Homo sapiens: one gene and its partners. The protein of the gene in region 3 purifies or fractionates together with the protein of the main gene of each other region. This does not show direct contact. Each region holds a gene or a part of one and is shown on either strand. Other genes may lie near its edges.

Region 1 (3,586 bases), on a different chromosome or scaffold from region 3:
TGTCTATTATAAATAATGCTAATAGGAACATGGGTGTCTGAATATCTGTTCAAGTCCCTGCTTTCACTTCTTTTGGGAATATACCCAGAAGGGGAATTGCTGGCTCATGCAGTCATTGCATGTTAACTTTTTTTAAGAAATCACTATACCATTTTCCACAGTGACTGTACCGTTTTACATTCTCAACAGAAATGCACAAGGGTTCTAATTTCTCTACATCCTCACCAACATTTTTTATTTTCAGTGGTTTTTTTTTTTTATAGTGGCCATACGAATGGAAGTTAAGTAGTATCTCGTTGTGGTTTTGATTTTGATTTCCGTAATGACTAGTGATGTTGAGCATCTTTTCACGTGCTTATTGGCCACTTGTATATCTTCTTTGGGAGAATGTCTATTCAAGTCCATTGTTCATTTATTAATCTGGTTGTTTATTTCTGTTGCTTTGTAAATTTTTTTATATTTTCTAGATATCAATCCCTTATCATATACATGTTTAGAAACCATTTTCTTACATTCCGTGTGTTGCCTTTTTTAACTCTGTTGATAGTGTCCGTTAATACACAAAAGTTTTAAATTTTGCTGAAGTCCCACTAATCTATTTTTTCTTTTATTGTCTATAGTTTTGGTTTCTTATTCAAAAAATAATTTCCAAATCCAATATTATAAAACTTTTACCCTTTATTTTCTTCTACAACTTTTATAGTTTCAACTCTAATGTTTGGTTCTTTGATCCATTTTGAGTTCATATTTGTAAGTTATAAGGTAATAGCCCAACTTTTTAAGGAGATATATCATTTCCTCAACATCATTTGTTAAAGAGACTCTCCTTTCTTCATTAAATGATCTTGACACCCATACTGGAAATCATTTGACCATATATATCAGAGTTTATTCATGGGCTGTCTTTTCTATTCTATTGGTTTATATGTCAGTCTTTATACCAGTACCACACATGGTTTTGTAATACGTTTCACAACTCAGAAACTGTGAGACTCCAACTTTGCTCTTCCTTTTTATTTTTATAATTAGGGGATCTCTGGAAATTTCATATGAAATTTATGGTGGATTTTTCTATTTATACAAAGTAATTGGAATGTTGGTAGGGATTATATCAAACCTGTACATCACTTTGGGTAGTAGTGACATCTTAAGAATATTAAGTCTTCCAATCCATAAACACAGGATGTCTTTCTAATAACTTATGTCATCTATAATTTCTTTAAAGGGTGTTTGAAGTTTTCACTCTACAAGTCTTCCACCTGCTTGGTTAAGCTGATTCCTAAGTAGTTTATTCTTTTGATGCTGTTAAATTGGATTGTTTCCAAAATTTCCTTTTCTATTTTTTACACTAGCAACTGATTTCTCCATATTGACTTTGCATGCTGCAACTTTGATGAATTGTTTTAATAGTTCTAATAGTTTTTTGTGGGATAGTTAATGTTTTCTACAAATTAGATACTATCATCAGCAGACAGAGATAATTTTACTTTTTCATTACCAATTAGGATGCCTCCTTTATGCTTCTCTTGTCTAATTACTCTGGATAGGACTTGCAGTGTTCTGTGGAATGCAATTGACAAAAGTAGGCATCCTTTTCTTGTTCATGATGTTATAGGAAAAGCTATGACGTTTCATCATTAAATGTGAAGTTAGCTGTGGGTTTTTAATACATGGCATTTATTATGTTGAGGTGCTGTCTTTCTATTTCTACTTTGTTGATTATTTTTATCATGAAAGCCTCCTGAATGTTTCCATGCATTGGATATTCAAATTTCCTATTTCTTTGATTGTAAGTACGTAAGGTGAATACTGATTGTTGTTTCAGTTCTCTCTCTTAACCTTAAATATACTACTTTTTCCTTCAATTGCCAGAACTGCCTGTTACTAAATCCCCATCGCTGGTCTCCTCTCTCCCTTGCAGGCTTCTCTCTGGGCTCCACGGTGCAGTCTCACACTAAAGGAATCTGGATGTGGTGTGTGCCCCACCCCAAGAAGCCAGGCCACATCCTAGTTCTGCTGGACACCGAGGGTCTGGGAGATGTAGAGAAGGTGAGACTCAAGGATCCAGTTGTGGAGTAAGCCCCTCCTCTCTGAATATTTTATGCAGCGGTTAATTGTTTATTAACTATTAACTACAGGCTGTAATATGTGTGGGTTAACACAGATGCATAAAGGGAGCACAAATAATCCCAGTGTCATAAGTCTTATCCTGCACAGAACTTTAGTTAAGAATTTGGGTGCTAAAGCCATGTGACTTTGTATTTAAATTTAAATTCTGTCACTAATTCAGTAGCCTGAGAAAATTGACTTATTTTCGCCTCAGCATTCTAATCTTTAAAATGTATGGAAAAGACCTATGTTGGCCATATAGTATTATTTTGAATATTTAATAAGATAATACATTACAGGTGTATATTAATTATTCAATAAAATAGCAACTAATAGTACCAATCTTATATGTGAATTCTGTTATTGAAAAAAAGAAGAGAAAATTTTAAATTTACATTGTACTCAGGCCTTAAAATGCCCACCAACCTTGAATTTTAATTTTACAATTATCTGTTGATGATCATTAGAAGACCTAGTAAGAATCATGGTAACCCAAAAACACTCGTCGAAAAACTACCCAAAAGCCACATCCTACTGAGAATAATTTTTGTATTTGTCTTCCTTTAATAGGTCATTAGTGTTAAAAAAAAAAAAAAAAAAGAAAAGAAAAAAAAACCCTCTAACATATGAACATAGTTTTACTACTGTTACTCTGAAAAGTGCTGCGATGATGAAACTTGCTCCTGACTCCAGTGTGTCTTGACTTCCAGGGTGACAACCAGAATGACTCCTGGATCTTCGCCCTGGCCGTCCTCCTGAGCAGCACCTTCGTGTACAATAGCATAGGAACCATCAACCAGCAGGCTATGGACCAACTGTAGTATCCTTTTGTGACCCAGAACAGCACCAAGGTCAGAGGGGACACCTGTATTCATACACCAGCTGCCTGACTGTGAATCCTGATGAATCAAGCTCAAAAGGAGAAAACAAAAAATAATGCAAGTACAGAGGAGAGATCCCATGTATCCACTTTAGAACTGACACTGACACTTAGGTTAGGAGCAAAGGAAAATGGAAGGTTTGGGTATGTGTTGAACTAACATGGGATGAGGTCCCTGTTCATTTTGTCACATTTCCTTAGTTAGCTACTCAGCTATGTGACAGAGCTGACACATAGAATCCGATCAAAATCCTCACCTGATGAGAATGAGAATGAGGTTGAGGATTCAGCTGACTTTGTGAGCTTCTTCCCAGACTTTGTGTGGACACTGAGAGATTTCTCCCTGGACTTGGAAGCAGATGGACAACCCCTCACACCAGATGAGTACCTGACATACTCCCTGAAGCTGAAGAAAGGTAACAGAGAGCTTCAACTGATAAATGAGGATGAGAAAACACAAGAAATTATCATTTTTCAGTTTACTATTGCTAGTTTTCCAGCATTTGCAGTTTTCTATGTCTTCAGCTGGCTATTCCTAGAAATTAATACTTGCTGAATATCCAAATTAATAGATGTTATTTTAAATTACATTTGTCA
Region 2 (3,586 bases), on a different chromosome or scaffold from region 3:
GGTTATGATCATGCTACTGCCCTCCAGCCTGGGCAAGAGAGTGAAACCCCATCTCTGAATGAATGAATGAATGAATGCCTTCACAAGGCAGCTTCCACCTAGAAGCCATCTCAGACAGACCCCACTCACCCGGGTATGCCATCACCCCAGCATTTCTGGCAGTTCCACTCTAGGCCTCCATCCCGTCCCCTGGGAAATGGGGGTGATAATAGGACCTACCCTATAGGGTTGTTGAGCAAGTCCCAGTGGGAGGACGGCAGGGGAGAACGGGCAACATGGCTGGCCTCTGTCTGTGGGTCCAGAGGGCCAGATGCCTTGCGCTGGGTGAGGCCATCCTAGAGGCAGGAGAGGAGAGGAGGCCCCAGCGAAAGGCCCCAGCCCACTTGTGTTGCTGTGGGCAGCAGGGGAGGGAGAGAGGCCTACAGGGGGCCTCAGCAGTCTCGAAGTCGCCCAGCTAGGCCATCACTGGCTGGGCTGGGGTCAGGGAACCATAGCTGATGGGGAATGCATGGAGGACAGATGACCAATGTGAACTGATGGGACTCAGTTTCTCCCCTGGGCCTCAGTTTCCCTAGCTGTACAATGAAGTGGCTGTGATGCTGACACCTTGGTGTTCTGAGGAAGCTGTGCTCTCTGTGGCTGCCGCAGGGGCAGGAGAAGGCCGGTCATGCTGCTCTCTGGGCCAGAACCTCTCCCCGGGACTCAAGACCACCCCCGGTGTCTGGTCCTTGCTTCATCTCTGCCCACCACCCCATGGGCCCTGCGGATTTGCGTAGATCCGCTTCCTGACTCCTCATCTCCAGATGGGTTATTTTCCGCATTTTCCAGAAGATGGAAACTGAGGTGTGGGGAAGACAAGAGATTTGTCCAAGGTCACCTGGAACTGCCCTTCCCTTCCCCCTCCTAGCCCTGGAGGATTGCTCCTGGGGCACCCTGTGCCATCCTGCCTGGCAGGAGGCTGGGGGAGTCTGAGGAGCCCCTCATGTCCCGGCCTTACAGATCGCTGCCCAGGAGCTGTCCGACAACCGCGTCATCACACTAAGCCTGGCGGGCAGGAGGCTGGACAAGAAGGTAAGGCGGGCAGAGGAAGGGCTCCCATTGGGAACAGTAGCCCCCACCAGCCCCAGGGCTGTGTGGCCTCATTCCGGGACCTCGGGCCACCACCTCCATCACATTCTAGGGACTGGTCCAGCACGGGGCCCTCCTGGCCACTCCAGATTAGGACTCCTTCACCTCTGAGGTAGTGAGTGTTCCATCCCTTAGGGGTATTCAAAACACACCTGGAAACCTGCTCATTGGGGCATCCCCATCTCACTTAGTGTAAGTACATTCCAAGGTCCTTACCCAATGGGGCCCTGCCTGATGTGTCCCCAGTGCCCCGACTCTCCGACCTCACCCCTCCTCCCCGCACCTCACTCTGCTTCAGCCAAACCTAGCCCCTTGTCCGTGAATTAAACGAGGCACTCTCCTCCCTCAGGAGCTTTGCACTTGCTGTTCCCTCTGCCTGGGATGCTCTCTTCCTTGAATTTTCTCACGGCACCCTCTCACCTCCATCAAGCCTTTGCTCCCACATCACCTCCTCAACGAGGCCTTCCCTGAAATTGGTCTTCAATTTCCCACCCCCTCCTTCTCGTCTCCTTAACACTATTACTGTCTAGCATACTTTCTTTCTTTTTTTTTTTTTTTTGAGACAGAGTCCTGCTCTGTTGCCCAGGCTGGAGTACAGTGGTGTCATCTCAGCTCACTGCAAGCTCCGCCTCCTGAGTTCATGCCATTCTCCTGCCTCAGCCTCCCGAGTAGCTGGGACTACAGGCGCCTGCCACCACGCCCAGCTAATTTTTTTTTTTTTTGTACTTTTAGTAGAGACGGGGTTTCACTATGATAGCCAGGATGGTCTCGATCTCCTGACCTTGTGATCCGCCTACCTCGGCCTCCCAAAGTGCTGGGATTACAGGCTTGAGCCACCATGCCTGGCCCATACCTTCTTTACTTATTTTCTGTCTCCCTAACTTGAATATAACCTCTTTAAAGTAACAGTTGCCAGGTGCAGCGGCTCACACCTGTAATCCCAGCTACTTGGGAAGCTGAAGCAGGAGGATCACTTGAGGCCAGGATTTTGAGACCAGCCTGGGCAATATAGTGAGACCCCATAGATGGATGGATGGATGGATGGATGGATGGATGGATGGATGGATAGATAGATAGATAGATAGAGTGAGTCACATACAAAAAGTGGCACTTTTTAAACCTTAAATGATTTTTTAAAGGCCATGATATTCCTTATGTCATGTGCAGGATAGTTTCAGTTTTTCACATTCCCAATAAAATAAACTGAAATGACACCCTGCTGGGAGCCTCACCCTACCTTGGGAATAGTCACCCTCTTGAAGTCCTGGCCCATCTAAAATGCCGGAGTTCTGACTCACACAGGCTCTGAGTCTTGGAGGGTCTCTGAGCACAAGCTCTGACAGCCTCAGGGTGGGGGGTTTCTGCTGGGGGACCTGGTTGATCCCAGGGGGCTGCAGCTGCCCTGGGCCTCTTGCTGAGCCTTGCAGAGTCTGAGGGGAGGGGGCCAGGCTGGCTCTGCCCACAGCTCCTATCCTGACACCCGGCTGGGGAGGCAGCAGGGCCACACCCCCATCTGCCTGAACCTAGCAGGGCTGTACCTCTCTCACCCGCATCCTCCCACTTCTCCCAGGACCTCTTTGGGAAGTCAGACCCCTTTCTGGAGTTTTATAAGCCAGGAGACGATGGCAAGTGGATGCTGGTCCACAGGACTGAGGTGGGTACGTGGGGGCCCAGGGATCTCTAAGCAGTGGGCCTGCAGTCCAGCCCCTCCACAGCTCTGAAAAAGGGAGGTGCGGTCACAGCCGCTCAGTGTGCAGGAAAACCCACAGTGGCACCTGAGGGATATGCTTCCTCCCAGCCACAGGGACGCTCACTTCTGTCTCTGGAAGTGTGGCTGTGGGTCTGCATTTTGTCACCCTGTCCCCATTGGGCTGACCCAACCCCAGAGCACTGCTGCCCAGGGCCTGAGCTCACAGCATCCCTCTCTGTCCCACAGGTGATCAAGTACACACTGGACCCTGTGTGGAAGCCATTCACAGTGCCCTTGGTGTCCCTGTGTGATGGGGACATGGAGAAGCCCATCCAGGTGAGGGGGCTCTGGGGACCCTGCTCCCCACCTTGCCAGCTCCAGCCTCCCAGTCTACCTGAGGCTCCCGGGGATGCCTTGTAGAAAGCTCTTTCTCATACAAGTGGAACGAACCCCCATCTTTGGAGGAGGGAGGACTGGAGACTGGGTCCTCATCCTGGATCTATCTGATGCCCTGAAGTACCCGGGCAGGGCCCCCACCTTTGAGCCCCTCTCTAAAACTCTCTTGCCCTCCCCAGAGGGCTGCAGAGCTGCTAGCTAGGGAAACACCTTGGAAATTATCAAATTTGGCATGATGAGGACAGTGATTACCAGTCTCTCTAAAAGCTCTCAGTCCTCTGGCTGAGTGCAGTGTCTCATGCCTGTAATCCCAGCACTTTGGGAGGCTGAGGCAGGTGGGTCACTGGAGGTCAGGAGTTCAAGACCAGCCTG
Region 3 (3,586 bases):
GGTGAATGTAGACTGCTCCTAAGTTTTTGCTCGGAAGGGGGCACTAAGGGGAGCCAGGGCAGGCATTGGTTTCAAGATGGGATAGACCTGAGCATGTGTCCATGCATAGGAAATTGTCTAGCAGGGCGAGAAATGAGGCTGAAAGTAAAGGAGAGCCAGGTAGTGCGAGGGTCCAGAGACGGGGATGGGCCTGGAGCAGATTTGAAAGGATTGCCTTGAGAAGGGAGGGCAGACATCTCTTTGTCATAGAAGGAAAGGAGGAGGTCATAGATCAGTTGTGAGAAGACTGTTTAAATAACTAGAAGCAAGAAGGTAAGAAAGCCTCATTTTTTTTCTTTCTTTTAAGCAGGGTTTAATATATGTTCAAGAAAATGCATAGGTCTTACTTAGGTGATCAGTTTGAATTTTTGACAATTGTGTACACTGTACATCTGAAAATAGGTAAGTTTCTATCATCCTAGAAAGTTCCCTTTGCTTCTTTCAGTCTATCCCTGTCTTATCCTCCATTGAAGAAACCCCCTTTTTTTTTTCAATTCTATCAACTTAATTACGTTTTGCCTATTCATGGACATTATATTGTTGGAATCAGAGCGTTTCTTGTGTGTCCAGTTTCTTTTGGCCAGCATCGTAGGGATTTCTCCATGTAGTGTGTCTGCATAGTTTCTTTTTATTGCTGAGTAGTATTCCATTCTGTAAACATTGCAATTTGTATATCCATTCTCTGGTTGATAGATGTTTAGATTGTTTACAGTATTTGGCTATTAGGAATCAGACTACTACAGACATTTTTGTACGAGTCTTTGTGGATATAAATTGTTTACAGTTTCTCTTATATAAATATCTAGGAGCAGAATTGTTGGATCAGATAGTCAGTGTGCTTGTTAAAAACTGCCAAAGTGTTTTCCAAAGTAGTTGAACTATTTCACACTCCTACCATCAGGATATGAGAGGTGCCAGTGTGCCCCAAACTCAGCAGCATTTAGTATTGGTAGTCTTTTTTATTTTGGCTGTTCTAGTTTTAATTTGCATTTCTCTAATGACTATGATATTCAACACCATTCGATGTGATTCTTACTGGTTTTGTGAAATGTCTGTTTATTAATTAAAGTCTTTTACCCTTTTTGTTGGGTTGATTTTCTTTCTTTCTTTCTGTTTTGAAGGAGTTCTTTTTATTTTTTCCAATAAGCCTTTTGCACTCCTATCTAGGAGTTCTTTAATCTGAATACGAATTCTTTTTCAGGTGTATGCATTGCAGATATTTTTTTCCCAATCCGTGGTTCACTGTTCATTTTCCTTTTTTCTTTTTCTTTTTTTGTTTTTAGAGACAGAATCTTACTCTATTGCCCAGGCTGGAGTGCATGATGGTAGCTCACTGCAGCTGTTCTCTATGAATTTTTAAGTTTCTGATTCATCTCAAAAGATGTTTAAATTCAAATTCAGTGAGTGGAGGAGGTGGCAGAAGCATAGGTGGCCGCGAATCTCTAAAGTGAGAGTTGATGTGAGAAGGTTGCACAGGAGACTTTGCCCAGAGAGCAGATTTCCAAATCATTGCCTGTGAGGTGAGGCTGATTCTAGTGATGATGCAGTCCAGGCCATGGCCCAAGGGTGTATATGTTGGTGTGGAGTGTGGGTGCAAAGGGCATTGGAGTTTGGAACTCATGGTTGATCCTGGGTGGACCATCTTCATGGATAGAGCCATCCTAAATGATCGCAGGCCTCGAAGGTGAAGGAAGAGCAGAAGTCTAGGACCAGAGTGTTTAATGAGTGAGGGGGTTTAACAGAGTTGTACTTGGTGGAAAATCACTTAGGAAGAGTAATTCTGAACCCACTTATAGCAGATCAGGGGCTGTCCCCCCACCACATCACCACATTGCTGAGAGAGTTTACCTAAGTAAGATAAAAGTCCAGGATCAGGCAGATCTTGCTGCTCAAAAGAGGAAATGCCAAAAAACAAAACTCAGAGTTTTCTTTGGTGAGCAGGAGAGACAGATAGCCTTTCACTACTCCCGATGTTCTTTCATTTGCTACAGATGCCAGCTTGGAGAGTCACGTGAGAGCAAGAGAGTAGCTTTCTGGTTGTCCTGGTGCCCTGCTCAGGCAAACTGACTGCCATTCTCTGAGGATGGCAGCTCTGTCCCCCACATTTGGTAAGTTCTTGGGTCAGTGCGTGCCCTGAGAAAGTGAGTGCAAGTGGCCCCTGCCACTTGATGGGGTGAAAGATACGTACACCATAGAGGGCTGCTGGGAGAGGATGGGCAAGTGGAAAAGGGGTGGGAACAGAGCCCCAGCAGCCACCCCAGTGACTGTGTCTGCTGAGGGTCTTGGTGGGTCTGGGAGCAGGCCAGTGTCCTTATCATTCATGCATGAAGAGGGTGCAGGTAATGGGTAACCCTGAGTTATCTCATTTATTATTTTGATCACTTTCAGCAAGGTCACAACTCTAGCTCTCAGAACTTGCATTTCTTCACTCCTAGGTTGGAACTATGTCACTTCTTATGAGTATGTAGCCCACCACCCTCTTTATGTTTTTGGTGGAACAGGGCTGCTCTGACTTGTTATGAAACTGATGTGTGCAAGAGAGGTGGGGGGAGGAAGAGAGAGAGAGGATTGAGGATGTGAACACTCAGAATCAGTGTGGAGCAGTTTCCTGGTTTACAAGTGTTGTATTATGAGACAGGGCAGGCTCTGATTCTCATGAACCCTGTTTTCTCCTCCAGCCACGTCCACCCAGGATTCCACCTGTCTCCAGGACTCAGAATTTCCTGTTTCTTCAAAAGACCATTCCTGTCCCCAGAATTTGGACCTGTTCGTGTGCAGTGGTCTGGAGCCTCACACACCCAGTGTTGGTTCCCAGGTGCACTAAGATCTCTGGGTCCCTAGAGCAGGAGAGGCACTTCCTGGAAGACCCCACCAGTGCATGCTGGAATTCTTGCAGAGCTTCATCTCAGCCAGTGGATGCCAGAACAGGGCCCAAGAGAGAGCCAAGGAATATTGGGGCTGTCCTGGTGTTGGGGAAGTTAGGGGAAGTGATTTATGTAGCATCTGTTTCCCTCATGCTTGCAAAATCTCAGGCCCTTGCTCAGCCCCAGAGACGGGGGGAAATAAAGGGCAAAGCTCTCGGAGTGGGCTAGAACTGGAGGGAGATTAGTCCCTTGTCAGGGTTGCATCTGAAGTGACGGCACAGGACAAGATGGCCTCAATGGGGAGAGAGGATGTCTGAGGACTGATGCCTGGAGGAAATGTTGAGCCCCGTAGCAGGCCATCTGGAAATCCTGTGTTGGGTCTCTCATGCCCGGTCTTCAACCTCAGCCATCTTACCATGAACATCGTTAGGCTGGTTCCTCGCTGACCCCAAGTTTGTGTGGCGTTCCAGGAATCGGTGACTTTCCAAGATGTCGCTGTGGACTTTACCGAGAAGGAGTGGCCCTTGCTGGATTCTTCTCAGAGAAAACTGTACAAAGATGTAATGCTGGAGAACTACAGCAACCTCACTTCACTGGGTAAGGCCAGTGCCATTTCTCCACTTATTCATCCATGAATTAGATGTTTTTGTTTGAGTATGTTCTGTGACCCAGGAACTATGCAG
Region 4 (3,586 bases), on a different chromosome or scaffold from region 3:
GTTGGTGCGGAAGTAATTGCAGTTTTTGTCCTTTTTTAATAGAATTGCTCTCTGTAAGGTATCAAAGATGACTGACGCAAAGCAAACACCTCAGCCCCCAGCAGACCTCCTAGGCTGATCCCCACCAGAACTCAGGCATGGAGGGTAGGGGGTGTGGGATGTGGGAATGCAGGGCTTCTTCCTGGTACCCTGCCTCTCTGTCCCTGGGGGCTAAGTCAGAGCTGGACCTTTACCAACACCATGCCAGCACCCTGGCTGTGTGCCCATCTCTACCTGTGCCCCCCACATTGCTAGCTCAGCCATCTGCCAGCAGCTCTTGGGGAGCAGGACATGCTAACCTCTTCCTATGTCCCCTAACTATGCTATGGACCATTTGGGGGTTGAGCCCACCCCCTCTGGCTTTTTAAGAGACAGCAGCAGGCCTGAGGACACAATCCATCCTGCCTCAGGCCTTTGAAGCTAGGCCAGGCGCCCTCCCATACATCCGGCATCCTTTAACGTGACACAGGATTGATGATGTGTGGGGGCTAGTCGGTTGCAAAAGGCCACGCTGAGCGGGAGGGGGAGTTCAGGCTACGAAGGAAATGGATTCCCTTGCAGGGGAGTCTCGTTTAATGCTGCCATGCATGGGCCCAGGCTCCGCTGGGGCCTGGCGGAGCCATGCTTTGTCTGCTGCTGTGTCGCTCCTCCTGCTGCCCCTTCAGGAGAGGTAGGAAGGGGCTGGTTTAGGAAAGAGACTTGGTTCTTGCTAGAGCTGGGGTGTTCCCAAAGAGCTGGCTGGAGGCCACCCGGCCCACCCCCTGCCAGCTGGCCGCTCCGTGTGGCGCAGGCATCAGGCCCAAGGCCAGCTAAAGCCCAGCTTCCCTCTCCAAGGCATGGGAGAAAGAACAGCTTTAGGGCAGTAGCTCTGGAGAACCTTTCCAGCTTTTCCTCTGCATCCCCAAATCTCAATGAGCACCCTTCTGGGGAGCCTGCTCCCATACCCCATCTCTTCATGTACCCCTCTGAAGCCTGGGAGAGGCCAGCAAAGGGGCCATCCCTGGTCCCCTCCCTTTACCTTACTCTTCTGTCACCTAGAACCACCGACCATAGAAAAAGCAGTCCCCTCACACCTGTAATCCCAGCAATTTGGGAGGCCGAGGCGGGCGGATCACTTGAGGTCAGGAGTTCAAGACCAGCCTGGCCAACATGAGGAAACCACGTCTCTACTAAAAATACAAAAATTAGCCATGCATTGTGGCGGGTGCCTGTAATCCAAGCTACTCCAGAGGCTGAGGCAGGAGAATTGCTTAAACCCAGGAGGCGGAAGTTGCAGTGAGCCGAGATCGCGCCACTGCACTCCAGCTTGGGCAACAGAGCAAGACTTCGCCTCAAAAAAAAAAAAAAAAAAAGCAGTCCCTATAACTAGCCTCCTTCACAGTCATCATCCTGGCCAGGGCAGTGACAATTCCAGGAGACACATGGAAGGCCCTCCCATCCCTGCCCAGCACACACTTGGAGTGCAGGCCAGCAACTCCCGCAGCTTCTGTCAACACAGGGCTGGCAGCAGAAGACCAAGGTCCAGCGGAGCTCAGTTGAACTGCATAAATCAGCAATCATTTTTTCACTTCTTTTATCTAAGAGTTTTTAGCTAAGGTTATTGAGTTTTTAAATAAAAAAGCTTTTTCTTTGATGGTCTCTAGAGACAGCTGGGTTGAGCCCCAACCTAGAATGGAGGCAGGGGAGGATTCCTGGCCTTTGTCATGGCTGAGCTTTCAGAATGAAGGATGGGCCTTTCTGGACAGGATCCAAGTTTTATTCTGGACAGAGTAAAACCCAATCCTAGCCGGCATGAGCCACTTTTCTGGGAACTATCAGGGCCCTGGCCATCCCCAAAGGAGGCCAAAGGTCCATGGGCGGCAGCCATCTTTCCCCACCCCCCTCCTATTTACAGGAACCTTCCTAGGCTAGGGCTGCGCCCACGGGCCCTTACCCCTTGATTCCCATCACAGGTTGGGTGAGGGGCAGGGGTCTTATACCAGTTATAGTACCCTGGGGAGTTCCCTGAAGGTTGGGGTAGCTGAGTGAGCCAAATGGGGAAGAGCAATGGGTTCCTCCAGAGCCTTACATCAGCTCTTCTCGCCCCATGGCTGAGGCCAGAGAGGAATGATCTGCTCTTCAGGCAGCCTCTTCGCCACCTTTTCCTCAGCAAACACACACCAACATTGACATTTACAAAGATCAAGGGAGCTTGTGGCCCTGGGCTGCCTGAACCTGGCCACACAGGCTTGCGGCAGCAAGAGCCCAGCCCATCTGTTTACAGGACGCTCAGCAGTTACTCCCAGGAAAATCCCTGCACTTCAGGAAAGGGAAACTGGTGAAAGGATTTGCTTGCCCAACCGTGGCCTGGCCTGAGGAGGTAGTGCTCCACTCTCCCACGTCCAGCTTGGGCCCCCAGCCCTCACAGGCACCTCTTTGTTCTCCCTCCACAGGTACCTGACGCGCTGGGCTCCTGGCTCCGTCAAGCCCATCTACAAAAAAGGCCCCCGCTGGAACAGGGTGCGCATGCCCGTGGGGTCACCCCTTCTGAGGGACAATGTCTGCTACTCAAGAACACCTTGGAAGCTGTATCACTGACAGAGAGCAGTGCTTCCAGAGTTCCTCCTGCACCTGTGCTGGGGAGTAGGAGGCCCACTCACAAGCCCTTGGCCACAACTATACTCCTGTCCCACCCCACCACGATGGCCTGGTCCCTCCAACATGCATGGACAGGGGACAGTGGGACTAACTTCAGTACCCTTGGCCTGCACAGTAGCAATGCTGGGAGCTAGAGGCAGGCAGGGCAGTTGGGTCCCTTGCCAGCTGCTATGGGGCTTAGGCCATGCTCAGTGCTGGGGACAGGAGTTTTGCCCAACGCAGTGTCATAAACTGGGTTCATGGGCTTACCCATTGGGTGTGCGCTCACTGCTTGGGAAGTGCAGGGGGTCCTGGGCACATTGCCAGCTGGGTGCTGAGCATTGAGTCACTGATCTCTTGTGATGGGGCCAATGAGTCAATTGAATTCATGGGCCAAACAGGTCCCATCCTCTTCATGACAGCTGTGAGCTCCTTACTGTGGGAGAGCTGCAGGGAGCCAAGGTGGGCTGCCTGACACACTTGCCGCTCTCGTGTGAATCCAAGAAACTGCGTTCCTCAAAGGGGCCCTGGTTGTCACCTTCTCCCACAGCCATTTCCACCCATCGTTGTCTAGAATCTCTTTCATTAGCACATTCCAACCCCTCTGCCACTTGGTTTAGAAATGAGCTCCCTGGCTCAGTGGGCCTTTCAGAATCTGGAACCAGACGGAGGTGGAGTTAAGAAGATAGGACAGAACAGGCAGGCCAAGTTCACTGAAGCTTAAGAAAATCATGTTTAGACTCTGTTTAAAAACATCCAGGCTGGCTCCCATTCTATAGCATGAAGGGCAAGTCCATGTTCTTCTCGCCAGTGCCCACGTAGACGTAGCCATAGTTCTTGGTGCGGGGAGCATGGTAGAAGGTGAGGCCCGGCCAGAGCAGGCTGCGCAGCACCACCAGGGCATTGCCCCTCTCCATCTGGATGCTCCAGG

The links.
Region 1: the proteins of ZNF317 (region 3) and GBP1 purify together in Homo sapiens (affinity purification with mass spectrometry; one large-scale study listed by BioGRID and IntAct). This does not show direct contact.
Region 2: the proteins of ZNF317 (region 3) and CPNE2 purify together in Homo sapiens (affinity purification with mass spectrometry; one large-scale study listed by BioGRID and IntAct). This does not show direct contact.
Region 4: the proteins of ZNF317 (region 3) and MRPS18A purify together in Homo sapiens (affinity purification with mass spectrometry; 2 studies listed by BioGRID and IntAct, with this or other methods). This does not show direct contact.

Annotation. Positions count from the first base shown.
Region 1 is NC_000001.11:89,058,660-89,062,245, reverse strand, and holds part of GBP1 (guanylate-binding protein 1), read left to right. Parts: intron 1-1,921; coding exon 1,922-2,049; intron 2,050-2,819; coding exon 2,820-2,929; intron 2,930-3,202; coding exon 3,203-3,405; intron 3,406-3,586.
Region 2 is NC_000016.10:57,116,497-57,120,082, forward strand, and holds part of CPNE2 (copine-2), read left to right. Parts: intron 1-999; coding exon 1,000-1,071; intron 1,072-2,698; coding exon 2,699-2,782; intron 2,783-3,064; coding exon 3,065-3,154; intron 3,155-3,586.
Region 3 is NC_000019.10:9,153,895-9,157,480, forward strand, and holds part of ZNF317 (zinc finger protein 317), read left to right. Parts: intron 1-2,030; 5' UTR 2,031-2,122; coding exon 2,123-2,147; intron 2,148-2,717; coding exon 2,718-2,854; exon of another isoform or gene 2,855-3,373; coding exon 3,374-3,500; intron 3,501-3,586. UniProt on the Homo sapiens protein: May function as a transcription factor. May play an important role in erythroid maturation and lymphoid proliferation.
Region 4 is NC_000006.12:43,670,792-43,674,377, reverse strand, and holds the end of MRPS18A (large ribosomal subunit protein mL66 isoform 1 precursor), read left to right. Parts: intron 1-1,777; exon of another isoform or gene 1,778-2,471; coding exon 2,472-2,616; 3' UTR 2,617-3,176; downstream 3,177-3,586. Other genes in the region: RSPH9 (radial spoke head protein 9 homolog), read right to left, coding at 3,391-3,586.